Regions from separate parts of the Homo sapiens genome. Here all the other regions are linked to region 2. Evidence: fine-mapped expression QTL. A gene starts in region 2. Each other region holds a variant in brackets. All regions are shown on one strand. Distances are from middle to middle. Region 1 overlaps MICU1 (mitochondrial calcium uptake 1). Region 2 holds the start of MICU1 (mitochondrial calcium uptake 1). Region 3 overlaps MICU1 (mitochondrial calcium uptake 1).

What was found. PIP is the estimated chance that this variant, and not a neighbour inherited with it, causes the effect.
Region 1: its variant is fine-mapped to the expression of MICU1 in whole blood (TOPMed, PIP above 0.99).
Region 3: its variant is fine-mapped to the expression of MICU1 in whole blood (TOPMed, PIP above 0.99).

The regions. Positions count from the first base shown.
Region 1 is chr10:72,472,671-72,480,670 of GRCh38, reverse strand. It overlaps MICU1 (mitochondrial calcium uptake 1), which reads left to right. Exons shown (of 12, transcript NM_001195518.2): 7 at 3,415-3,497; 8 at 5,374-5,571. Among named protein-coding and RNA genes, the nearest start is that of DNAJB12, 120 kb to the right of the region's middle. The variant G/AG (reference allele first, on the strand shown) is at 3,182.
Region 2 is chr10:72,621,025-72,632,204 of GRCh38, reverse strand. It overlaps MICU1 (mitochondrial calcium uptake 1), which reads left to right and starts at 6,126. Exons shown (of 12, transcript NM_001195518.2): 1 at 6,126-6,195. RefSeq lists enhancers at 6,122-6,271, 5,822-6,359.
Region 3 is chr10:72,375,603-72,383,602 of GRCh38, reverse strand. It overlaps MICU1 (mitochondrial calcium uptake 1), which reads left to right. Exons shown (of 12, transcript NM_001195518.2): 11 at 7,731-7,820. Among named protein-coding and RNA genes, the nearest start is that of DNAJB12, 25 kb to the right of the region's middle. The variant A/C (reference allele first, on the strand shown) is at 4,161.

The DNA of each region.
Region 1 (8,000 bases), 150 kb after region 2:
CGCTCTTATCAAATGTTTTCCTATTTCTATTAATTTGGGCTGTATTCCTCTGGATATTGTGATGCCGCTTCCTCTGTCACTGCCTCCTTTCCTTTTCGTTGCACTTTAAACATTGGCTTCCACCTGCAATCTACCCTTTTCTTGACCTTCTCCTCACTCCTCAGTTTTGCATGGGCAACTTCCTTTCAGGTTCTTTGCAGCTAGCCACTTGTATGCCCATAAATCCCAGCTTAAACCTCTCTCACTGAGCTTTAGACCCATATTTCCAACTGTCTCCTGAACATCTTCATCTGCATAAGCTGAGACCCCTTAAATTTAGCAGATCCCGTCTGAAATCATTTTATTTCTCAAACATTTTACATCTATTTGCTCTCTTTCTTCATGCCATGCAAGCTACACAGTAGTCTAAGCCAGTCATGCTGTCATTCCTTTTCACTCTCAACTCATCACAGCTAACTAATCATTAAGTTCTATAATTTCTGCCTTCTTTGGGTATCTCAAATGTGTCCCTCCTCTCCATTACCACTGCCATCACTGCAGTTTGCATTTTCAACATTTAAAAGAGCTTCTGATCTTCTTTAAAGCTGGCCTTTCTTTTCCAACTCATTCTTCACACAGTAGCTGGAGAAGTCCTTTATAATTGCTTGATTGTGTCACTCTCCTACTTAAAACCTTCAGTGGCTTCATATTTTCTGCCATTGTTACATTCTCAAGTATCTACAGGAATTAGGCAAATAACATATAGGAGTGAAGTGGGCCAAGTGTGACAAAATAAGGAAGAATAAGAGAGAACATTTCCACCTGAAGAGATTTATAATCAGAAGTTTAAAAAACATGACAAACCAGCCGGGTGCTGTGGCTCACACCTATAATCCTAGCACCTTGGGGAGCTGAGGCAGGAGGATCATTTGAGGCCAGGAGGTTTAAGACCAGCCTGGGCAATGTAGTGAGACCACATCTCCACAAAACATAGAAAAATTATCCAGGCTTGGTGGCACGCACCTGTAGTCCTAGCTACTCCAGAGGCTGAGGCAGGATTGCTTGAGCCCAGAAGTCTGAGGTTGCATTGAGCTATGACTGTGCCACTGCATTCTAGCCTAGATGACAGAACAAGACCCTGTCCCAAAAAACAAAAACACATGACAAACCTATCTGAGAGTTTAATGTTGCCTGTGGATCTTCCATTTACTACGGTCAAGCCTAAACTCCTGAGCATAACACAGGCAGTGTTTCTGTGATATTGGTTATCTCCTTGAGATGATCAACTTGGAATGTTCAGCTTTTGCAGAGACTGACATAACCACTGTGTCATGTTTTGTTGCTTAGTTTTTAGGTCAAATCGTGTCAGCATGAAGAGTGTGTGTTTATCATTTTAAGTACCTCTATGTTCACATTAGAGGCCTTGGAACATAAGGAAAGTTTGTAGGCTTTGGAGTCAGTGTTGACTTAAGTTCAATTCCCACTTCTGCCAAAAAGGAGCTGTGTGATTTTTGAGCTAGCCATTTAACTGCTTTGAGCCCCAATATCCTCCTCTGTTTAAACAATAAAGAAATGAAAGTTTTCAAGATTGAGAGTATGAAGTCAAATAATAAACACCTCCAATTATCTAGCTCAATGCCTGCCACATAGTAACTCCTCAGTAAAATGTAACATTCAGACAGGTAGCAAAAATTTGAGAAGTGACAACAAATATACAAAACTAATTCCCCCAGCTGCATCCTTCCCAGCAATTGAAGGCTGGGTCATGGTGGCTCACACCTGTAATCCCAGGACTTTGAGAGGCCAAGGTGGGAGGATCACTTGAGGTCAGGAGTTCAAGACCAGCCTAGCTGACATGTTGAAACCCTGTCTCTGGCCTAAAGGAAAGCAAACCTATTGGAAGTCAATATCAAGTGAAGCAGACAATTGGAAGCTGACACACACATGATTCACCCAGGCAACTAAAAACCAGGAGTTTCCAGCCTAGCTGCCTAACTACCTGAAAATGGAATTTGAGCCCAGAAAGTGTTTCTGTTGACAAATTCATGAGCAGGATGGGAATATGGCCTCTCTAACAATTATACATAATATACAAAGTTCATTTTACTTTTTTCTCTGCATAAAATCTTAACTTTTTTCATGTAAATGATGTTAACTGAAATTTTAATTCACTAGTATAAGGACACATAGAATATTTATTTTGGTTTATTCTCTAGAGCTGTATAAATTTGAAGCACCAAAGGAAGGAAGTAAACAACTTAGTTTTCTTTACCAGAACATTTAGTATGGGAAGGGAGGAGGGCTGTTGAGTTTATATTTTATTCCAATGCACAGAGTATATTAATGATATTATGACTGATCTAGGAACACTAAAGAAGCCTTGAAAAGCTTTCATCATTAAGGGAAAGTTTTGTCAAGCTTTGCATTTTTTCATTTTGTTATTTAAACTTCAGCTTAATTTTACCATTTAAGTATATTTAGTAATTTGTGTATGCAGCTGACATGATCGAAATAGGGGGCTGAGGCCAGACGCCGTGGCTCACACCTGTAATCCCAGCACTTTGGGAGGCCAAGGCGAGTGGATCACTTGAGGTCAGGAGTTCAAGACCAGCCTGGTCAACATGGTGAAACCCCGTCTCTGCTAAAAATACAAAAATTAGCCAGGCATGGTTGTACATGCCTGTAATCCCAATTACTCGGGTGGCTGAGGCATGAGCATCACTTCAACCCTGGAGGCGGAGGTTGCAGTGAGCCAAGATGGCACTACTGCACTCCAGCTTGGGCAACAGAGTGAAACTGTCTCAAAAAAAAAAAGAAAAAAAAATAGGGGGCTGAGTACCTTACAGTGTACTTTTCTGCCTTACCATAGAGCTGTAGTGATAATGAATAAACTAATAAAAGAAACCAACTTGAAATTATCCATGTTGGCAGGGTGACATGCCCAGAACTCCTGACTGCACTTACAACAAAGAGACTAGAAAGAACAAAGTAGAAAGCTGGCTTGTTGTGAGGGTAAGACTAAGATGTAGTGTTTCAACTTCTTACTTTGCAGCAATATGTCTCACCCTAGACATACTTTCTTGCCCAGATAAGTAATACCATATTGAAGCAACAGAACGTTAATATTACTAAGCTAAGAAGATGGTGTCTCTGAAAGCAAAGCTAAATCATTTAAGGCAAAGCATGTTGAAACAAAAAGGTA[G/AG]ACAAGTGCTGTCTTTACTGGCCGTAGTACTACTCTTTTTTGGTTTCAAGGAGTATTCCTAAAAGGGTGATCTCAATAAATGCAGTTTCATTTTCCATTTATTGAGACTTTGACTCAGTCACTTTTATGGTGACTTTGATATTACATTTTAGTGTTTAGCCTTTTGTTTTTCTTTAAAAAGGGATTTATTTTTGGTCAATGCCTTCTAAATATTTTTTTTCTCTCCTCTGCAGCTCCTCAGAGAAATTTTGAAATTGCCTTCAAGATGTTTGATTTGAATGGAGATGGAGAAGTAGATATGGAAGAATTTGAACAGGCAAGTTGTCCTGGAGAGTTCCTCTAAATACATTAATATTTAAAATACATTTTCATGTGCCTTGGAGTTACCTTAGCCTTGGTCAGTATACTCAGAGGCTATTCCAATTTTTGAAGTACCTAAAATGTCATTTCTCAAAATTATTCTTTGAACAGGTGGGTTGGTTTTATTTGTTTGTTTTCACTCTAAATGTAATGAATTATTTGAACATACCGTTAAGGTCACGGTTGCTCCGATTCTCCAACATAAATTGGGTTATAATGCCTCTAGCTGGGAAGCTAAATTATGGCAATTCAACATTTACCAAAAAGCTGCTATGTGCTAGGCAGTTCCAGAATACAAGGACTACATATTTTCTTAAAGGATTTCTATAAGAGAAGGAAAAATGGTGCCATACCATTTTTGACTATAGTAGGTGACAATTTCAAAATCCTAGGAATAGGTTACATTTCCATAGAACTACTGCCATTGGAGAACCATGGTGCTTCTCCAGATACAGTTATTATGATTGCCAGAAGTGGTCTCAAAACAGAAAAACTGTATGTATAGGAAAAAGCATTTTTTGTATTCTCAAAATGAGGAAAGGGGCAAATATTCCAGGAAGTGGGAGAAAGTATCAGGTACATTATATAAGGTAAGAAACTGGGCTGAACACGATCACTCATGCTTATAATCCCAGCACTTTGGGAGGCAGAGGCGGTTGGGGGACCACTTGAGGCTAGTTTGAAACCAGCCTGGGCAACATAGTGAGACCCTATCTCTACAGGGGGAAAAAAAATTAGCTGGGATTGGTAGTATGTGCCTGTAGTCCTAGCTACTCCGGAGGCTGTGGTGGGAGGATCACCTGAGCACAGGATTTTGAAGTTGCAGTGAGCTATGATCGTGCCATTGCACCCCAGCCTGTATGACAGGCAAGACCCTGTCTCTTTTTTTTTTTTTTTTTTTTTGAGATGGAGTCTCGCTCTGTCACCCAGGTTGGAGTATAGTGGCACAATCTTGGCTCACTGCAACCTCCACCTCCTGGGTTCAAGTGATTCTCCTGCCTCAGCCTCCTGAGCAGCTGGGATTATAGGCACCCACCACCACACCCGGCTAATTTTTGTGTTTTTAGTAGAGATGGGGTTTCACCATCTTGGCCAGGCTGGTCTCGAACTCCTGACCGCAGGTGATCCACCCACCTCAGCTTCCCAAAGTGCTGGGATTATAGGCATGAGCCACCACACCTGGTCATGAGAGAGTTTTTGAGTCTCCAAAACAAATGTTCATCCTTTCCTGAACAGAGATTTTCTAAGAGGATCCCAATTATAAAGTTGTCAGGCTGTCTGTGTTAGAACCCTAATTCTGCTACTTACCAGCCACTTGACCTTGAGCAAGTTATTTAATTCCGTGTGCTTCAATCTTATTTATAAAATAAGGATAATAATAGCACCTATAAGATTATTGTAGGCTGGGCGCGGTGGCTCACTCCTGCAATCCCAGAACTTTGGGAGGCCAAGGTGGGAGGATCACTTGAGGTCCGGAGTTCAAGACCAGCCTGGCCGACCTGGTGAAACCCTGTCTCTATTAAAATACAAAAAATTAGCCAGGCATGATGGTGTGTACCTATAGTCCCAGCTACTCAGGAGGCTGAGGCATGAGAATTGCTTGAACCCGGGAGGTGGAGGTTGCAGTGAGCTGATTTTGTACCACTGCACTCCAGACTGGGTGACAGAGAGAGACTCTGTCTCAAAAAAAAAAAATTGTTGTAAGCATTAAAAGAGATAATTATAATACAGAGTAGGCAAATAGTAAACAATAGTTATGATTCTTGCTTTTCTATGTTTATGTTTTCTCACTTCCTAATATTTTTCTGGATGTGGGTTTGATTCTGTATTAGGTTCAGAGCATCATTCGCTCCCAAACCAGTATGGGTATGCGCCACAGAGATCGTCCAACTACTGGCAACACCCTCAAGTCTGGCTTGTGTTCAGCCCTCACAACCTACTTTTTTGGAGCTGATCTGAAGGGAAAGCTGACAATCAAAAACTTCCTCGAATTTCAGCGTAAACTGCAGCATGATGTTCTGAAGCTTGAGGTAGGTCTTCCTTAGACTCAGTAGATCCATCACATGTGGAACTGATGGGCAGGAGGGCCTGTACTATAGGCATTCTTTCCATTTACCTCCAGCTGTGAGAACTGATTGATTTGAAGCTTATCAGTGCTTTATAAACTGACAGCAGATAGGAAACAACATGTTCTGTGAAAATGTCATGAAGTGAAGTATTTCTGTAATCTAAAACCAAAAACCTCTAAATTGAAAAATCTTAGCTGTCTTTGTATGTTCCGTTTGTGGAGAAAGAAACTCAGGGGTCACAGCAGTTCTCAATCTGAGCATATATTCCTGCTTTTTTGTTTATTGTGTGGAAGACACCAGAAGATGGAGATGAAGAAGGATGGATAATTGCAAAGGTAGTAAGAGCTGGAAACACAAAATGTCAGAATAAAAATATGTGTGCTTAATATAAAATATATGTGCTTAACCAGGCACAGTGGCATACACCCATAGTCCCAGCTACCCGGGAGGCTAAGGTGGGAGAATCGCTTGAGCCCAGGAGTTTGAGAGCAGCCTGGGCAACACGGTGAGATCCTGTCTCTTTAATTGTTTAAGGCAATGTTGCTGAGAGTTGCAAAGGTATCTTACTGTGTTTGGGGATTTACAAGTTTACTTTTCCATTTAAAGTTTAGACCATCATGCTATTCTAGCTATTTATTCTGTTCCATTCAAAACATTGATCAAATGCCTTCTATATGTATTTTTGTCTGGAGACAAAAATCTAGTCTCTAATTTCTTGACATTTTTAAAAATTCTCTTACACTGGTGTTTCCCAACCTCTTTTCTTTTTCTTCTTTTTTTTTTTTTTTTTTTTTTTTTTTTTGAGACAGTCCTACTCCATCAGCCAGGGTGGAGTGCAGTGGCATGATATGATCTTGGCTCACTGCAACCTCCACCTCCCAGGTTCAAGCGATTCTCCTGCCTCAGCCTCTCGAGTAGCTGGAATTACAGGCATGTGCCACCACACCCGGCTAATTTTGTATTTTTATTAGAGACGCAGTTTCACCATGTTGGCCAGACTGGTCTTGAACTCCTGACCTCATGTGATCCTCCTGCCTCGGCCTCCCATAGTGCTGGGATTATAGGTGTGAGCCACCGCACCCGGCCTCTCTTTTTCTTTTAACACACGCCCTACCTTAATATTATTTGGAATTTCAAAACATTAACTACTATAACTAAAACAGGTGAAAATACTGGAGAAAGGTGCTATGTTGTTTTTAAACTATGTATGTTACTTCTGTATCTGCTTTCCCTGTTTCCCCAAGATTCTTATATATGATTTCACCTTTTCCACCCACTTGTCTCAATTGTGTTGTTTTGTTCAATGTCGTTTTGTTGTAACACTGATGAGCGGGAACAAATTGATTTCCCCCTAGAGCCACTTTCTGTGCGGAGTCCCCTGTCTGTTTGAGTTTTCCCTGAGTACTCCGGTTTCCTCTCATATCCCAAAGATGTACATGTTCGGTGCACTGGAGTGTCTAAATGGTCCCAGTCTAAGTGAGTGGGTGTGTGTGAGTGTGCCCTGAGATGGAGCGGCATCTTGTCTGGGGTGGGTTCCTGCTTTGCACCCAGAGCAGCCAGGATAGTCTCTGATCATCCTCCATCCTGAACTGGAATAAGCATGTTAGAAAATGAAAGAATGCAAATTATTGTGAAATAAACTCATAAAGTAGATGATAAACAATGCAGTGCAAAAGCTCTCAGTGAGACTGCCATATTGGTTATTGTTTATGTTTGAACTTCATGGTAGGAGGAGGTACTTATTACAATTTTCACTTTGCAAACATTTATTTCTTGATTTAACCCACCACCACTATGACCACCGACATCTAATCACTAAAAATTGGGTAAATGACTATCTTACTTGTTTTTATCAATCTTTCTTAGATCTATATATATAGCTCACATTTATTTCAGTGTTTACTATTAGAAGTGTTTTGGGTCTTTATTTAGAAATTTGGTGATGCTTTTGTTTTCATTTTGAGATGGAGTCTTGCTCTGTCTCCTGAGCTGGAGTGCAGTGGCGCGATCTCCACTCACTGCAGCCTCCACCTCCCAGGTTCAAGCGATTCTCCTGCCTCAGCCTCCTGAATAGCTGGGATGACAGGCGTGCCCCACCACGCCCAGCTAATTTTTGTGTTTTTAGTACAGTCAGGGCTTTACCATGTTGGCCAGGCTGGTCTCGAACTCCCAACCTCAGGTGATCTGCCCACCTCGGCCTCCCAAACTGCTGGGATTACAGGTGTGAGCCACCACTCCCAGCCATGCTGATGTTTTTGTGACCAGAAATATGCCATAGGAAATTAACTCTCATCTTTATCAATTAGCCTATGGTAACATTGGTTTTGTTAAGCATTGTTTCACTTAAAGTCTCAGTTTCCTAGAACCTAGTGAAGACTTACTGTATACTA
Region 2 (11,180 bases):
AACTCCACCACTCTCTTTGGATTTATCAGCAAGTAGTCTACTTTAAGGAAAGCCACTGTCTGATTTCCCCATTTCTCTTTCTCTCCTTAATATAGATTGTTGGATTCTTATTTTATTCAGTGGCTGTAACTTACTACTGTTCTTTTTTTTTTTTTCTTTTGAGACAGTCTGGCTCTGTTGCCAGCCTGGAGTGTAGTGGTGTGATCTTGGCTCACTGCAACCTCTGCCTCCTGGGTTCAAACGATTCTCCTGCCTCAGCCTCCCGAGTAGCTGGGACTACAGGCACGCACCACCACACTCAGCTAACTTTTGTATTTTTTTAGTACAGACACGGTTTCACCATGTTGGCCAGGATGGTCTCAATCTCTTAACCTTGTGATATGCCCGCCTCGGCCTCCCAAAGTGCTGGGATTACAGGCGTGAGCCATCCCGCCCAGCCACTTATTACTGTTCTTATGCTGGTACTCCAATTATCCCAGATTTGGCCAGTGATGGGCCTTCAAGCTGGCTCCCTTTGACATGTCCTCATTTTATTTTCTGATTGCTTCCTTACTTTTGGACACAACAAGATGTTCCAGGTCATCTTGTACATTCCTGCTGTAGACTTGAAACCAGCCCTGTTTTCAAGAAGACTTAGTTCCTTTTTGTGGAGAAAGGTAGTTCAGAAATCAAGATCTGGGCAGAGATTCTTTAATTTTGAAGTTAGTTTCAATCATAAAATCAAGGAGAATATGTCAATTTTTATAAATCATCATATTTATGCCATCCTCCCACCTCCTAGTGGTAAAAAGCCAGGAAACATTTAAGCTTTTTTAAAATTTTTTTCATATTTATTTGAACATAATTAATTCTGGCTATAAGTATTAGAGAAGAATACTCACTGCAAGAACAACTATGGGTCATAAGTCTCTAGATAGCTACTCAAGTACAATATAACTTCAAAAAGGTTGGGTGTGGTGGCTCACACCTGTAATCTCAGCACTTTGGGAGGCCAAGGTGGGTGGATCTCTTGAGCCAAGGAGTTCGAGACCAGCCCGGGCAACATAGTGATATGTTGTCTCTACAAAAATTACAAAAAATTAGCCAGGGCTGGTGGTTTGCACCTGTAGTCTCAGCTACTCAGGAGGCTGAGGCGGGAGGATCACTTGAGCCTGGGAGGTTGAGGCTGCAGTGAGCTGAGATGGTGCACTGCATTCCAGCCTGGGCGACAGAGTAAGACTCTAAGACTCTCTGTCTCTTTGTTTCTCTGTCTCTGTCTCTGATATATATATTCAAAAGGAGTTTGTGATGGACGACTGCATAGGTTTTGAGATACCATAATCTATGGAACCCTGAAGATAAGTGTAATAAAACAAAGACCATCTCATTGAATTCATTTTAAAGAAACTGAATGAAAGCTTTAGAAAATAAACTTTTTGTAGTCTGATACTTGTTGCAAAAGATGTTTTTGTTTTTTACAGTGGTGTGATATGTTGGAGACTGCTGTGGTAACACATATTATTTTAATGTGATAAGAATAGATGAACTATAAAATGTATGACATAAGGACACCAATTTCTATTTTTAGTGAATGACATTAAATACTGTCCCTTGATAACACAGATCTTTCAACACAACACACTTTTGAAATACTGAAGATGAAATAAATAAACATTATATTTTGCATATGATAGTATGATAGTCCTGGGGGCAAAGATCAAATCTATTTGTCAAGTATACAGGACTTAGTATTCATTCCCAATCCTATCATTGCAGGGGAATCACCTGGGACTTTTAAAATCCAGATTCCAGAGCATCACCCTGGTTCACTGAAGCAGTGTGTCTCATGATCCAAGAATCTGTATTTTAAAAATCTCCTCAGATAATTCCCAGGCATTTGATCACCAGACTGGTTTGGGAACTACTGAACTTGTTAAAAAATACATTTTTACGGTGGTGCAAGTCTCATTATAGATACAAGTTGCCCAAGGGCAGGAATCGAGCTTATAAATTTTTACAAGCCCAGCACTAGTTGTGAGCATTACATATATTAATATGTAGGTATTCAATATATGTCTGTGAAAGAATTTTGACTTCAAATTTTATTGGTCACCAGAGGAGTCTTATTATTAGTTTGTACAGGAGATATAAACCTTGATTAGTGATATCATACATTTATATGACTCGGAACACATTGCATAGCATCCTGAAAAACAATACTGAATTGATGGACAGATTTCTAATGTAGAATATAGCTGTGTTTGGTTATGACCTTGAATTCTGCTAACTTACTCTATACTCTTGGAAATGAAGAAGGAGCTAGATGCGGTGGCTCACGCCTGTAATCCAAGCATTATGGGAGGCTGAGGCGGGTGGATCACGAGGTCAGGAGTTCGAGACCAGCCTGGCCAAAATGGTGAAACCCCATCTCTACTAAAAACACAAAAATTAGCCAGGCATGGTGGCGCATGCCTGTAATCCCAGCTACTCAGGAGGCTGAGGCAGGAGAATCACTTGAACCTGGGAGGTGGAGGTTGCAGTGAGCCAAGATTGTGCCACTGCACTCTAGCCTGGGTGACACAGCAAGACTCCGTCTCAAAAAAAGAAAAAAAAAAAGAAATGAAGAAAGAATACTCACATCTCATATTTATTTGTATAAGATTGGCCTAGTCTGTAAATTGTCTCTGTCTTGTTCTCCTTTCCATTAAATGTTCTACTTGATGCCAAAATGACTAGACAAAATATACAATAGCATTTAACATTTGTATGGTTTAAAACAGTGGTTCTCAAAGTGTGGTCAAAGACCACTGGAGGTTTCCTGAAACCCTTTCTAGTAATCTGTAAGGTCAAGACTGTTTTCTTACTAATACACTGTTATTTGCCTTATCGCTCTAATTCTTTCTTGAGTATATAGTAGAGTTTGCCAGAGGCTACATGAAGTGTAAGAGTGCAAACATTTAATGCAGAAAAGATACAAGAATCTGTCTTCTATTAAGCCAGACATTAAAGAAATTTGCAGCCGGGCACAGTGGCTCATGCCTGTAATCCCAGTACTTTGGGAGGACGATGTGGGCGGATCACGAGGTCAGGGGTTTGAGACCGGCCTGATCAACATGGTGAAACCCCGTCTCTACTAAAAATACAAAAAAATTAGCCGGGCGTGGTGGCATGCGCCTGTAATCCCAGCTACTCAGGAGGCTGAGGCAGGAGAATCACTTGAAACCGGGAAGCAGAGGTTGCAGTGAGCCGAGATCGTGCCACTGCACTCCAGCCTGGGCGACACAGTGAGACTCTGTCTCAAAAAAAAAGAAAAGAAATTTGCAATAATGTAAAACCATGCTACTCTTTTTTTTTGAAGTTGTTTTTCTTAAGAATACATTATTTATGTCAACATATAATGGATCTATTATTTTTAAATGACTAAGTACACATTAAAATAATTTCAATTTTAATTTTCTTTCTTTTCTCTTTTTTTTTTTTGAGACTGAGTCTTGCTCTGTCACTGAGGCCTAGGCTGGAGTGCAGTGGCATGATCCTGGCTCACTGCAACCTCTGTCTACCGGATTCAGGCGATTCTCCTACCTCAGCCTCCTGAGTAGCTGGGATTACAGGCGTGTGCCACCATGCCTGGCTAATTTTTGTATTTTTAGTAGAGATAGGGTTTCACCATGTTGGCCAAGATGGTCTCGAACTCATGACCTCAGGTGATCTGCCGCCTCTGCCTCCCAAAGTGCTGGGTGCCATTGTACCCGGCCTCAATTTTAAGTCCTCATATGCTAAATTAAAAAAAGTTTATAGAGACAGGTTCTTGCGCTGTTGCGCAGGCTGGAGTGCAGTGGCATGATCATAGCTCACTGTAGCCTCAAAGTCCTAGCCTCACGTGATCATCCCATCTCAGTCTCTCAAAATGCTGAGATTATAGGTATTAGCCTCTGCCTGGCCGAATATGGTAAATATCGATAGGTATAACACACATAAATAAAAGTTATTTTGAGTCCTCAATAATTTTTAAGTGTATAGGGGTCCTAAGACCAAAACGTTTGAGAAACAATGATTTATGTTTTTAAATGTTATTTAACAGTTAGTTTGACTGATTAGTTTTATATAGACAAATGTTGCCTAAAATTAGAATTGAATTTCAGCAAATCTTTCTTTCTTTTTTTGAGACGGAGTCTCGCTTTGTCGCCCAGGCTGGAGTGCAGTGGCACGATCTTGGCTTACTGCAAGCTCTGCCTCCCGGGTTCCTGCCATTCTCCTGTCTCAGCCTCCCGAGTAGCTGGGACTACAGGCGCCCGCCACCACGCCTGGCTAATTTTTTGTATTTTTAGTAGAGACAGGGTTTCACCGTGTTAGCCAGGATGGTCTCGATCTCCTGACCCGCCCGCCTCAGCCTCCCAAAGTGCTGGGATTACAGGCGTGAGCCACCGCGCCCGGCCTGAATTACATCATTTAAGAGTGGAAGCCTCAGAGGCCTTCAGGTCAGGTCTATGTCCCGCTACTGCATGTACTGCATTACCTAGGGGTGTCAGCCTGCTTCCCTATCTGCAAATGAATAAAACAGTATCCATCCTAGAGTGGTTGTAGACAAGCACTGGGTTGTATGTAAAGCGCTAGCACAGAGCCATGAACACAATCATCTATTGTACTTAGGTTAGTTGGGTCTGAGAAGAAATGGAGAAAACAGAGTTGATTCTGCTTACTTCACAATTTACCCCAGGGATGGTTTTGTTGGCTTTGTTTCCATGGTTGTTGCCTTTTCCACAGCTCTGCTACGTAAATTCTTGGGAAAAAAAAATTATTTGAAAGTTCTCTGGGACCAGCGAGGTGGCTCGCACTTGTTAATCCCAGCACTTTGGGAAGCCGAGACGGGAGGATCGCCCGAGGTCAGGAGTTTGAGACTAGCCTGCCCAACATGGCGAAACCCCGTCTGTACTAAAAATACAAAAATTAGCCGGGCGTGGTGGGGCGTGCCTGTAATCTCAGCTACTCGGGAGGCTGAGGCAGAAGAATCACTTGAACCTGGGAGGAGGATGTTGCAGTGAGCATCACTGCACTCCAACCTGGGCGACAGTGCGAGACTCCGTCTCAAAACAAACGAACAAACAACCAACCAACACCCCGCTGCCCCCCCCCCAAAAAAATTCTCTGGTATTATAGTCATATTTCCATCCTATTTCCACAGCAGGGGTGAGGATCCTTTGCCATCCCATTTTTCTGATAAAAACACCTTCTTCAGCCGGGCGCAGTGGCTCACGCCTGTAATCCTCGCACTTTGGGAGGCCGAGGTGGGCGGATCACCTGAGGTCGGGCGTTCCAGACCAGCCTGACCAACATGGAAAAACCCCGTCTCTACCAAAAATACAAATTAGTAGGGCGTGGTGGCGCATGCCTGTAATCCCAGCTACTTGGGAGGCTGAGGCAGGAGAATCGCTTGAACCCAGGAGGCAGAGATTGCAGAGAGCCGAGATCGCTCCACTGCACTCCAGCCTGGGCATCAAGAGTGAAACTCTATCTCAAAACAAACAAACAAACAAACAAACAAAAAACACATTCTTCAAGGGAAAACATGTTTTTAAGTGGCTTCTAGAGATTATAAACTCTGCAATAATATTAGTCTGCAAATAAAACACCTGACAAAATCATCCACCAGAGGAAGTGGTGAGGGTTTCTAAATCCAAAAAAGTCTCAAGGTTATGAAACAGGAACATTTAATCTCTGAGAAAACCTAAACGGAGTTGGAAAGAAACAATTTCCAACTCACTGTGGTCCAGTTTTCTTTTCACGAACTCCTTTTTGCTTAGCCAACATAGCCAACACGAAAACGGGTACCGAGGAGGTGTTACAAGCCACAGTAAATTTCTCAACAGATTCCTATGACCCTTGTGGAGGGGAAAAAAACCAGAAGAAATGCCCGAGAGCTTCTGGGAGCTCTCCAGCTTTCCCGCCTAAACGCTGAGGGGAGTAAGGGGGAGTGACGGGGCTAGGGCGGGGCCCGAGGCTGGGGCGTGGCGCGTTGATTTCCCCGCCCCTCCCCGTTCCTTTTCCTCTGTGCCCCTCCCACACGCCTGTCTCCACGATCCCGACAGGCCCAGCGGCTAGGAGAGTCACGTGAGAGTGGGCGGAGGGGGTGGAGGTTTGTCTCCGCTGTTTCATCTCTATGGCTGTCAGAGGTGGGCGGCTTTGACCGAGAGGCTGCTGGAGCTCGTGTTTGGACGCGTGAGTCTTGGACTCTGGAGGGTATAAGGAGACAGCAATTTAGGGAAGGCGAAGGGGAAGGGGGTTGGCGAGACAGCCTTAGGGAACTGGGCTTCGTGGCTGGCCGTTTGTCCGCCCCGGGCATCCGGCTACTTCTCGGGTCTGGCGGGATACCTGTCTCTCCCTGATGCGCTCAGCTTTTGGAGAGGAGTCCGTAGTCTTGCTTGCCTCCCGTCCTCCACTTTCCTTCACCCCAACCCGTCCCTTCTCCCGTCCCGGGAGAACTTCTCCCAGTGCCGGGTTCGCAACTTGGCGCCGACGCCCCCCTCCTCACAGGCGACTGGGACACTCTGGTAGCCTTGACTGGCTCTCCTGGAATTTGTGGATGTGGTTAGAAGTGGGTGCGGGAGTTCACAGATGGATTTCTAATACGGAGAAATATTAACCACTGAATCGAAATAAGTGGAAAATCAGTGAGGACTCAAAGGAGAAATACAAAGTGCAGGCTACTCGGACTGTTCAGTTTTTATCTTTTCCAGCGCCTTCCCGTTTTCATTACGTTCTCCCTGTTTTGTTTTCACCGTCGCATTCTGGCCGGCCATAGGCTGTTTTGAGAAAGAGCTAGATGTTATTGACTCTATGTGAATGTTGGGAGAACAGTTTAAAACAAACTGTTCTTCAAGTTGCCTTCTCTGTAATCTTATGGTTGATGGTTTCTTTACCTTCCAATTTTCCATGTCTTAAAAAATACGGTGGCCATTAGTAAATATAAGTAGAATAAATATCTTATAGCTAAGGGACTAGAGTAAAATATTTTATTTTTCCTGTGGTACCTTAGAAACGCCCATTTTCTTCCTATTTATCAATAAATGTTTCTATCTCACTTGTTTGGGTGGCTTCTTTGATATGCCTTTGTTTATATTAGAACATCCCTTTGGGGCACGTAGGGAAGTGATCGAGCAGTATAAGAAAGGAGTTTGCATTTCATGAGGTGAAACAAGTTCGGTGTGGATAGCTGTAGGAGAGTTTAGGTTTCATTGGACCATATGACAAATAATAAACGTCAGTATCTTGAGACAAAGGTGTTGGCCAGAATGACCCACCTACTGTGTTTCTGGTGTGGACCAGGTAATGAGCTTTTTGAATATTGCCTTATCCTAAAAACTTTAGAACCCATTGCCACTTGTCTGTAGGAAGGTGGCTTTTGCCTCCAGCTACTCTTTGTCCCAATCCTTGGTTTGTCCCTGATTGTCTCTTCCACTTAAGAACATCACTCTGGCTACCTAATATATCAAGCAAGTGTCTCTGACATCTTCTGAGTGTCCTTACTGAGAGCCATAAAACATAATATTAACAAAAAGTGAATATTCTGGAGTGGCTTGTGTGCCTGAGGAGAAAGGGAAAGAATGATAGAAACTAATAGAAGCTAATAAATGCAAGAGAACAAAAGTGTTTATTGCTGTCTTCCTTTATATTTACTATATTCAGTAGATTGTTTACATTCCTAAGAAGTGCATCTTGAGACTAACTTTCCTGTGTTTAAGAATAAAACAGGCTGGGTGTGGTGTCTCAGGCCCATAATCCCAGCAATTTGGGAGGCCGGGTGGATCCCTTGAATCTAGGAGTTTGAGACCAGCCTGGGCAATATGGCAAGACCATCTCTACAAAACACAAAAATTAGCTGGGCGCATGCCTGTAGTCCTGGCTACTTGGGAGGCTGAGACAGGAGGATGGCTTGAGCCCTCGAGGTTGAGGCTGCAGTGAGCTGTGATCGTACCATTGCACTCCAGCTTGGGCGACAGAGCGATACCCTGTCTCTTAAAACAACAACAAAAGAATAAAACGATATGAAATTTCTCCATAATGCAATATTATGCAAAATAATTATAATTGAAATATTTAACTGACCAACTCCTTCAGATCTTATGCTATTCAGAGTTATAGGACTAATATAATTGATAAAGCTTTTTTAAACCCAATTTTGCCACCTTCAGTCTTTAAAGTTAGCTTTATCTCTTGAGCCATTTTTACAATGGCTGCAGCACTTGCTGAACATTAACCATTTTTTCCATATGCAGTTGTTTAGTGTATCCCTTTTAAAATAAGAACCAGTTTTTAATTAATTAATTAATTAATTAAATGGAGATGGGGTTCAGCCATTTTGCCGAGGCTGGTCCTTTTGTTGAGGGGTGGGGACGGAGTCTCATTCTGTTGCCCAGGCTGGAGTGCAGTGGTGTGATCTCGGCTCACTGCAACCTCTGCCTCCTGGGTTCAAGCAATTCTCCTGCTTCAGCCTCCGAAGTAGCTGGAACTACAGGCGCGGCACCACATCTGGCTAATTTTTGTATTTTTAGTAGAGATGGGGTTTTACATGTTGGCCAGGCTAGTCTCGAACTCCTGACGACCTCAGGTGATCCACCTGCCTCGGCCTCCCAAAATGCTGGGATTACAGGCCTGAGCCACCACACCTGGCCTACCCAGGCTAGTCTTGGAACTCCCAGACTCAAGCGATCCTCCCGCCTTGGCCTCCCAAAGTTCTGGGATTGCAGGTACAAGCCACCATGCCTAGCCACTAGAACCAGTTTTTTTAAAAAGGTTTACTCAACTGTTTTTTCCACACATATTTTCTTTTTCTTTCTTTTCTTTTCTTTTTTTCTTTCTTCTCCCTTTCTTTCTCCCTCCCCTCCCCTTCCCTTTTCTTTTCTTGTCTTTTTTTTTTTTTTTTTTTTTGAGACGGAGTCTCGCTCTGTCTTGTCTTTTTGACAGAGTTTCACTCTCGTTGCCAAGGCTACAGTGCAATGGCGCGATTTTGGCTCACTGCAACCTCTGCCTCCGGGGTTCAAGTGATTCTTCTGCCTCATCCTCGTAAGTAGCTGGGATTACAGGAGCGTGCGCCACCACGCCCGGCTAATTTTTGTATTGTTAGTAAAGATGGGGTTTTACTATGTTGGCCAGGCTGGTCTCGAACCCCTGACCTCAAGTGATCCGCCCGCCTCAGCCTCCCAAATTGCTGGGATTAGAGGTGTGAGCCACTGTACCTGGCCTCCCACTCATAATTTAAAAATGAAAATATTGTAATAGCTTTATTTTGTGCCAGGAGAAGAAGGTGATTGTTTTTAGATGGATATTCTATGTGCTTTGGTAAATTATGAGAAAATTGTTAATACTTTTAAGATATTGAAATATGAATAAGCATGTTTGAGAAGAAAACACGGGCAATATTTTTAAACATTTTAAATTTCCTATTATTGAAGTAATATGCTTATTTTTGGAAAATGGAAACATTATCGAAAATACAATATTGAAAGTCAAAGTCCTAATTTATCTTTTCTCTTACTACCAGGTAACCACTAGTTCCCTTTGCATATTTGGGATTCAGTGTGGAAAAGTAAGGCTTTGGAGTCAGATTCCCTGGGAAAGATTGTAATACCAGCACTAGGCTTACTTCCTTCAACCTCAGAAACCCAAGAAGAAAGAGAATTTCCCTTTCTCTACAGTTCCAGCGCACCACTGTATGGTAGTTTCATTGACCTGACTTGGGTCTTTGCCCATCCTAGAGGCAGTCCCTGTGGCCAGAGTGATGGAATGCTTTGTGTGGCTAGGCTTGGAATTTGTCCCTATCCTGGAGTGGGAAGGAGAGGAATATAGTTTGAAACCATTTGAGTTAAGGGTGGGTGACAGTTCCTAAAGAAAAATTGAGGTGATGCTTTCTGGAGAAGAGCAATTGGTTGCTGGACAGGCAAAAACAACAGATGTTCACTAAAATAATTTTCATGTTTTTTTTTTTTTTTTAATTAAGAGAACTTGGGGCCGGGCGCGGTGGCTCACGCTTGTAATCCCAGCACTTTGGGAGGCTGAGGCCGGCAGATCACGAGGTCAGGAGATCGAGACCATCCTGGCTAACATGGTGAAACCCCGTTTCTACTAAAAAAACAAACATACAAAAAATTAGCCGAGTGTGGTGGCAGGCGCCTGTAGTCCCAGCTACTCCGGGGAGGCTGAGGCAGGAGAATGGCGTGAACCTGGGAGGCAGAGCTTGCAGTGAGCTGAGATCGTGCCACTGCACTCCAGCCTGGGCGACAGAGCAAGATTCTGGCTCAATAAATAAATAAATAAATAAGAGAACTTGGTTTCCTTTTGCAATATAAAAAATTGTATTTACAGTTTATGTGTTGATTTTTTTCTATTTTTAATGCCTATTATAATCACTTAAAGAACTTGAAAAAATTTACACTCTTCCAGTGTGTGTATCTGTACTGTTATTACATGTTTAGTACCCCTGCTCTGGAATATTCAGGTTTTATAACTTTAAATATATTATGTATTAGCCAGCTTGTTAAAATAAATTCTTGATATTTTTATTGCTTTGGGTGAACTTGATTAGTAACTGCAGTTAATAAATAGTAAATAAAAATGTTTTAAATATTTAAATACATGTTGTGGATATGATTAAATACTTGGTTCTTTTCATTGTTTTATGTTTAAAAATCTGTTAGTATAGAAACCACTTTATTTTTTTATTATTATTATTATTTTTTGAGACGGAGTTTTACACTTGTCGCCCAGGCTGGAGTGCAATGGCGCGTTCTTGGCTCACTGCAACCTCCGCCTCTTGGGTTCAAGCAATTCTCCTGCCTCAGCCTCCCAAGTAGCTGGGATTACAGGCACCTACCACCACGGCTGGCTATTTTTTTTTTGTATTTTAAGTAGAGATGGGGTTTCACCATGTTGGTCAGTCTGGTCTCGAACTCCTGACCTCAGGTGATCTGCTAGCCAAAGTGCTGGGATTATAGGCGTGAGCCACTGCGCCCATCCAAAACCACTTTATTTTGAACGTGGTATGTAAAATAAATTACCATAATTATAACTAATTGCTATTACTGGGTGTTAACTTTAAAATTATAATTAACACTAGTTTTGTATCTTTATGCCTTATTCTGGTGGTTCATCATTAAAACAATTTTTTTTTCTGTAGAAACGGGGTCTCACTATGTTGCCCAGGGTGG
Region 3 (8,000 bases), 250 kb after region 2:
CTGGTTAAATAAACAAGGAAATTATGATCCATCCTGTCAGTGGAATACTATGCAGCTATTGAAGGAAGCTGCTCATGTCCATCTGGAATTATTTCTAAGATATGTTGTTAAGTGAGTAAAGCAAAACAATATTTAGTACACCACCATTTTGTGGGAAAAGGGAAGAAGCGAAGAGTACATATTTGATTTTATATCTACAAAATATTTCTGGGGAAACTAGTGACATTGATTGTCTCTGAATGACTGGGTGACTGGGGTATAAGGTTGGGAGAGAGACTTCACCCCTTTTGTACCATTCAAATTTTGAAGCAGATGACTATATTAGCGAATCAAAAACATCTTTTTTTTTTTTTTTTTGAGACAGGGTCTTGCTCTGTTGCCTAGGTTGGAGTACAGTTGTGCAGTCATAGCTCACTGCAGACTTGAACTCCTGGGCTCAGGTAATCCTCCCACCTCAGTTTCCCAAGTAGCTAGGACTGCAGGAGCGCACCATCGTGCCCAACTAATGTTTTTTAAAATTTTTCGTAGAGATGAGGTCTTCCTCTATTGCCCAGGCTGGTCTCATTCTTGGCCTCCCAAACCACTAGGATTATAAGCATGAGCCACTGCACCTGTCCTAATTAAAAACAACTTTTAAAATAAAGCTAACAGAATGAATATTTAAACAATGTGAGAGGGAAAAGCAAGTTACTATTGGACGGAGGCTTGCTCTGTCGCCCAGGCTGGAGTGCAGTGGCGTGATCTTGGCTCACTGCAGCCTCCGCCTCCCGGGTTCAAGTGATTCCCTTGCCTCAGCCTCCTGAGTAGCTGGGATTACAGGCATGTGCCACCACGCCTGGCTAATTTTTGTATTTTTAGTAGAGACGGGGTTTCGCCATGTTGGCCAGTCTGGTCTTGAATTCCTAAGCTCGGGTGATCTGCCTGCCTTGGCCTCATAAAGTGCTGGGATTACAGGCGTGAGCCACCACACTTGGCCTGTTTTAAAGACTTTCTTGCAAGGAGACTTGACTAGTCCTCTGTAAGATTTCTCCTAATGTACTCACCCCCTGCACCTTCTGTTCTAACTCTCTAATCAGGCCTTAGCACTCCTTCCTGCTTTTAATACTGTATTCAAACAGAAACCCCCAACCCACATCACTCACTACCATACATGCGCAGTTGGTCTCTTTTCTCCCTTAGAATTCAGATACAGGCCAGGCGCGGTGGCTCATGCCTGTAATCCCAGCACTTTGGGAGGTCAAGGCGGGTGGATCACCTGAGGTCAGGAGTTCGAGACCAGCCTAGCCAACATGGCGAAACCCTGTCTCTACTAAAAAAAAAAAAAAATTAGCCGGACGTGGTGGCAGGCACCTGTAATCCCAGCTACTAGGGAGGCTGAGGCAGGAGAATCACTTAAACCCGGGAGGCGAGGTTGCAATGAGCCGAGATCGCACCACTGCACTCCAGCCTGGGCGACAGAGCAAGACTGTCTCAAAAAAAAAAAAGAATTCAGATCCAAAATGTAACTCGTACCAAATACACACTATTCCATTATTTCCCATATGTGTGTATTAATATATCTGATATCTGTCTCTTCTACGTGTTTCTCCATCTTAATGTGTGTGTGTGTGTGTGTGTGTGTGTGTGTGTGTGTGTGTGTATAGATATATATATACACAGTCTCCTCCACCAAACTGTGATTGTCCCATGGGTGTGTCAGCTGAAATCATTGACTACCTAATGATGCTTGCAGAAATGCTAGCCCTTTGTGGAAAAGATGTGATGGGGATTTTTAATAAACCCAGATACAATACTAGACAATGGCAATAAATCTTACTGCCAAGTTAGTTTGTACCAAATTAAGCGTGTAAGCCCATTGAAGCCATCATCTGGGATGATGCGCTCAGGCTCAGAAAACAGATCTTCTCCGTGGTGTGTCCTGGAAGTTAGGAGCTAGGATTAGCAGCATCACCTCTGACAGTCAGGCAGCCTGAGTACACAGGGGGTCAGCGGGCATAGGGCCTAAGAGCACCGTACAGAACAAGGAATTGTTATCATTTCCATTACTTGTAGGCTGCATTGCTCTTGGCTCCTTAAATTGCTAGTTCTCCTAAATGTTGTCGTTTCCCCTCCCCTCACCCCAGAACTAGGTTAAAATGTGCATTTGTATTAACAAAAGCTCATGGAAGGAGATACAAAAGACAGGACACATGCTCTTTAAGGAAATATCCTCCCCCTTGTTCCACCCAAAGCCATCTAGGGATGGACTTAAGAAAACAAGACATCTGCATCAGCCTTTCCAGGGCTGAAGCAGAACCATCTCCCCTCACTTAACCTTGGCCATCACCAGTCAGCTTTTGATTTTCTCCACTGCAGTCCGGTAAGGCAGGAATAGTACATGGCCACACAGCTTAGAGACTGTCAGCCCAACTTGTCATACCACCTTTCCAAACACTTTTGCATTAGGAAGAGGCAGGTAGCTCCTAACTGGGTCATGCTGCCTAAAGCTGTATCTGTGCATCAGAGGCAGCTGTGGAGAAAAACTCCCAGGGCCACATTCGTTACATGTGCTTTTCGTTGGATTGCTGTTGAATACACTTTTTAAGTTGTCCCTAAAATTGTCGGTATGAGTTCCTAGGGAATACTCAGTGTCTTCCACTGTAGGGGGTAGTCAGATCCACGGCCAACCTATAATTAATGCTGGTGCCTCACAACTCCCAGTTATTCAATTATTCATTCATCCCTCACCAAAAGGACTTGAGTATTTCCCATGTGACTTTTCTTTAATCTAAACCCTTTCTCCTCAGGGTGACAGATTCATGTCATGGAGGAATTGATATTGTCCATATATGGAAGGGATCATGTGGACCCAGTGTGTATAGGGAAAGGGCACCAGCCAAAATTCGAGACCCAGCTCTGTTACCATCTAGCATTGTGACCCTGGGCAAATTATTTAACGTCACATTTCCTCTGAGGTATCTTCCAGTTCTAAGATTCTCTGATTCCAAGTGGACATTTGGGCTCTCATCACTTCAGAGCTCTTCTGTTTAACTATTGTGGTGAATAGATTTATGTATGTAGTTTCTGATATTATATCACACAAACTCAGGGTTTCTTTTTACTGTTGAAACAGCCAGTCATGAATCATGCTGGAGAGTAAATTGGGGACCTGACACAACTCGGATTCTGCCTGGACTTTGCAAAAAGCCAGATGGTGCCAGATTTTTGAGTACTAGTTGAGCCCACTTCTACAAATTCTCTCCCATCCCAATCTAATAGGAATCACCCAATCGCACTTAAACCCTTTGTTCAGGCAGCTGGGCCAGATTTGTACAAAAATACGTAGTATTTAGAAAGCTAGGCCTTCGCTGGGGTGCCTTCATGCTCCCTGTAGACATCTTTCAGATTGGGAGCTGGAATCCCAACCATCAGTCAGCATCATCAAATAGGGAGGCCAGAATTCCAGTACCAACAACTGGTCTGCATAAAAAAGTTGAGATCTGGGAGGAAAACTTGTTCTGCTTGCTGTGATTATGACTGGATTCAGAGATATTGGAAGCAAATATGAATGAACCAACTCTCAGGACCAGCTGTCAAGCACTTGGCTTGTAATCTGCCGTCATCCCACTCATCCCAGGTGCTCCTAGTTTGACAGCTCACCAGCTATTAAATGTTGGCTTCCTGCACGACTCTGATTCATACCCCAGGGGCCTATAATGAGGATCTTGTACCAGGAAAGGGGACCCCAGCTAGGCTGTTTGCTGGCTAACATCCCAGTGGTTTGGGCTACAATAACTTAGCAGCCCTAGTTCTTCCTCCTATGGTAGGAAGGACACCAGAGCCCTCTCCATGTGAGATGGAACATAATCTATAACTTTCTGTGAAGAGATGGCATCTGTAATGAGGCATTCTTGCTGGAGGCCTCCAGAAGTCCCTATTCTACAACCACTTAATACCAATTTAATGAGCCTCTCATTAGAAATTGTCAAGAGCTCTCACTGACATCCTTGAGTATTATTTAATTAATGGTTTATTTACAGGAAAGGGCACCATCTTCATGGGGAGAAGATGAGTACTTGAAATATCAAGACAATTGCAGAAGGCTGTGCCCTGAGAGAATGGAAGAACTGGGAAAGAGAAAAGGAAGTCAGAAGCTTAAGGTTGATGTGAAATGCAGAAAA[A/C]GGAATGGTTAACAGAAAGTGTTCATGTTTATCTAATACAGAACAGGTTCCGATCCCCTTCTCAGGACACATTTCTGTGGCAGCAAAGAGTAAAGCTGTAGGCAATCACAGTTTAAGCGCTTCCAGTTCCTTCTGATCTCATTCTGTTTTCACTGAGTAATCTTTTGAGGTTAATCTTCTGAGGTGAATGGGGTTTCCTTAGTAGCTTTCCTACTGAGAAGTATAATGACCAGCTGTCATCATTGTAGTTCTCTTAACAGTTACTATTCTTATTGCAAATTGGCCTGATTTCTGTTCCTTCTGTGGACAGTTTAGTTAGCAGGAATAAGTTTTTCCTGAGCCAAATCAAGTATCTAGATTTGTGAGGCTAAATTTCTAAACTCTAGAGCGCTATAGTCTTGTAGATTTCCCAACACACATCTCATGAATATCCACCACAATATCTTATACTTCAGTCTTTTAGTACCAAAGAATGTTAATTTCCTCTTCACCCTAACTCAGATCCTGGGAGAAAAGATGGGATATTTCCACCCCAACCTCACCCTCAGATTCTAGATGACACCAATAAACCCTTCTTTGTGCTAGTAAGCCGCCTCAGCAGTTGTCTGGTGGCATCCCTCCACTTGAACATGAGAAAATTAAATCTAAAGAGATCAAGTGACTCCATCCGGGTCACACAGCACGTTGGTGGTGGGGCCAGAACTGGAGCCCAGGTCCCGTTACTCCAAGCCTTGTTTTCTACCGCATTACCTTGCTCCTCTGCATTGCTCCAGTGTTTGCATCTGCTGATGTTGGGGGCACTGTGGTGATGTATTAATTAATTCTTGCATTGCTATAAAGAACTACCTGAGACTGGGTAATTTATAAAGAAAAGAGGCTTAATTGGCTCACAGTTCCACAGGCTGTAAAGGAAGCATGGCTGAGGAGGCCTCAGGAAACTTACAATCCTGGTGAAAGGCGAAGAGGAAGGAGGCACGTCTCACATGGCCAGAGCAGGAGGAAGAGAGAGAGGTGGGAGGTGCCACACACTTAACCAGATCTCATGAGAACTCGCTTACTATCATGAGAACAGCAAGGGGGAAATCTGCCCCCATGATCCAGTAACCTCCTACCAGGCCCCTCCTCCAACACTGGGGATTACCATTTGTTTTTGGATTTTCAGGGTTTTTTTGTTTTTGTTTTGCTTTTGTGAGACAGAGTCCCGCTCTGTAACCGAGGCTGGAGTGCAGTGGCACAGTCTTGGCTCACTGCAACCTCCGCCTCCCAGGTTCAAGTGATTCTCATGTCTCAGCCTCCTGAGTAGCTTGGACTATAGGTGCGCACCACCACGCCCAGCTAATTTTTGTATTTATTTTAGTAGAGACAGGGTTTCACCATGTTGGCCAGGCTGGTCTCGAACTCCTGACCTCAGGTGATCCATCAGCCTTGGCCTCCCAAAGTGCTGGGATTACAGGTGTAAGCCACCACGCCTGGCCTGGGAATTACAATTTGACATGAGATTTGGGTGGGGGCACAAATCTAAACCGTATCGGGTAAATATATGGAGGTGATAGAGGCAAAGTGAAAGATCAAATGCAAAAAATGACAAGATGGGCTGATAATAGGAACTGAAATTATAGGAATGCGATAAACAAGGCACAGTGGTTCTAGTTTAAGTTCACTTGGCTTCTGGATGAATCTAATGTGATGATTATAGAGAGCTCTTCATTACCAGCATAAATGGAAATTAATCCTTTTCTTTCCCTCATATTTTACCTCACTTAAGAATGTGTCCAGAAGCAATAACATGATTTATAGGTGTAGCTAGACCAGGTTTGAGGATAAATGAGAGAGAAGGCAGTGGAAATTGCCTCGTCCTTCCTGTCTTGTCTTTCATGAGAACCCAATTCTAACATAATTGCTAGTGTTTGACGGTGAATGTCTGGGAAAGAGAAAACGGCAAGAGAAAAGTGATTTTTTGCTGAGGTCTAAAAATATATATTTTTTAAAAGAAAGATATGCATCCTGAACTATTGGCCGGGCCCGCTGAGTGTGGTGGCTCACCCCTGTAATCCCAGCACTTTGAGAGGCCGAGGTGGGCAGATCACCTGAGGTCAGGAGTTCAAGACCACCCTGGCCAACATGGTGAAACCCCATCTCTACTAAAAATATAAAAATTAGCCAGGCGTGATGGCAGGCACCAGTAGTCCCAGCTACTTGGGAGGCTGAAGCAGGAGAATTGTTTGAACCCGGAAGGCAGTGGTTGCAGTGAGCCGAGATCGTGCCACTGCACTCCAGTCTGGCGGACAGAGTAAGACTCTGTCTCAAAAAAAAAAAGAAAGATACGCATCCTGAACTGTTAAGACAAGGGCCAGTGCATATACCAATGGGCTCAGTTGGAAGAAGTCTGGTGCAAAACCAGTAGGGAGGAGGGACAGAGTTGGGCAGGGAGGGCTCACTGTGCAGGCACTTAGCTGTCATTCACCCACCAAGGCGTGAAGCCTTAGTGTACTCACACCACAGACAAGCCTCCTTGTTCCCACCACCCATTTATATATTTCTATAAATATATATATAAATATAAAAATATATATGGCATAAAATGTGCCATTATAACCATTTTTAAATATACAAGTCAGTGGAATTACATTAATTACATTCACAATGTTGTACAACCATCATCACTATTTTCAAAATTTTTCCATCACCCCAGACAGAAATTCTGTATACATAAAGCAGTAACTCCCCATTCCCCTCAGCCCACAATAACCTCTAATCTACTTTCTGTCTATAAATTGAATATCAGGCACTTTTTATTTTTTGAGACAGTGTCTCACTCTGTTACATAGAGTGTTACTCCAGTACAGTGGCGCCATCTCAGCTCATTGAAACCTCTGCCTCCTGGGCTCAAGCTATCCTCTCACCTCAGCCTCCCAAGTAGCTGGTGCACACCACCATGCCGGGCTAATTTTTTGTATTTTTTGTAGAGACAGGGTTTCGCCATGTTGCCTCGGAATCCCAAAGTGCTGGGATTACAGGTATGAGCCACCGCGCCTGGCCAGCCTAGGCATTCTTAATTAACTATATATACCTCCTAAACTGTAGCAGCAGTAGAAAAGAACAGAACTTGAGGTGAAAAGGAGGGAGCTTATGAATAAAAACTCAATTATCATTTTTTCTTTTTTTTTTTGAAACGGAGTCTCACTCTCCCAGGCTGGAGAGCAGTGGCGTGATCTCAGCTCACTGCAACCTCCGCCTCTCGGGTTCAAGCAATTCTCTGCCTCAGCCTCCCAAGTAGCTGGGATTACAGGCACCGGCTAATTTTTTGTATTTTTAGTAGAGACAGGGTTTCACCATCTTGGCCAGGCTGGTCTTGAAGTTCTGGCCTCAGGTGATCCACCCTCCTCGGCCTCCCAAAGTGCTGGAATTACAGGCATGAGCCACTGTGGCCAGCCTAACTTATCATTTTCTTAAATGTGACTTAAATGCAGTTGAAAACTTGTATTATGACTGAGTCGTTTTATCCCCTGAATCAGAGAAAGCAAAATGAAAATCCCTCTGCTGTGCTAATGCACCTCTTTCTTTTTTCAGTGACCATGCAGCAGGTGGCCAGGACAGTGGCTAAAGTGGAGCTCTCAGACCACGTGTGTGATGTGGTGTTTGCACTCTTTGACTGTGATGGTGAGTGGGGCCCTCTGGAGCCCGGAGGGGAAACAGCCTAGCTGCCCTTAGAGGCCCTTGTGTATAATGGAGCCTTGCGGACAGCATCTGTGTACCAGCCCATCCTCTTCAAGCTACCCACCTTTCTCACATTAGCACCTCAGCCCTTGGCATGATGATACTGAGAAATCGAACCCCTGG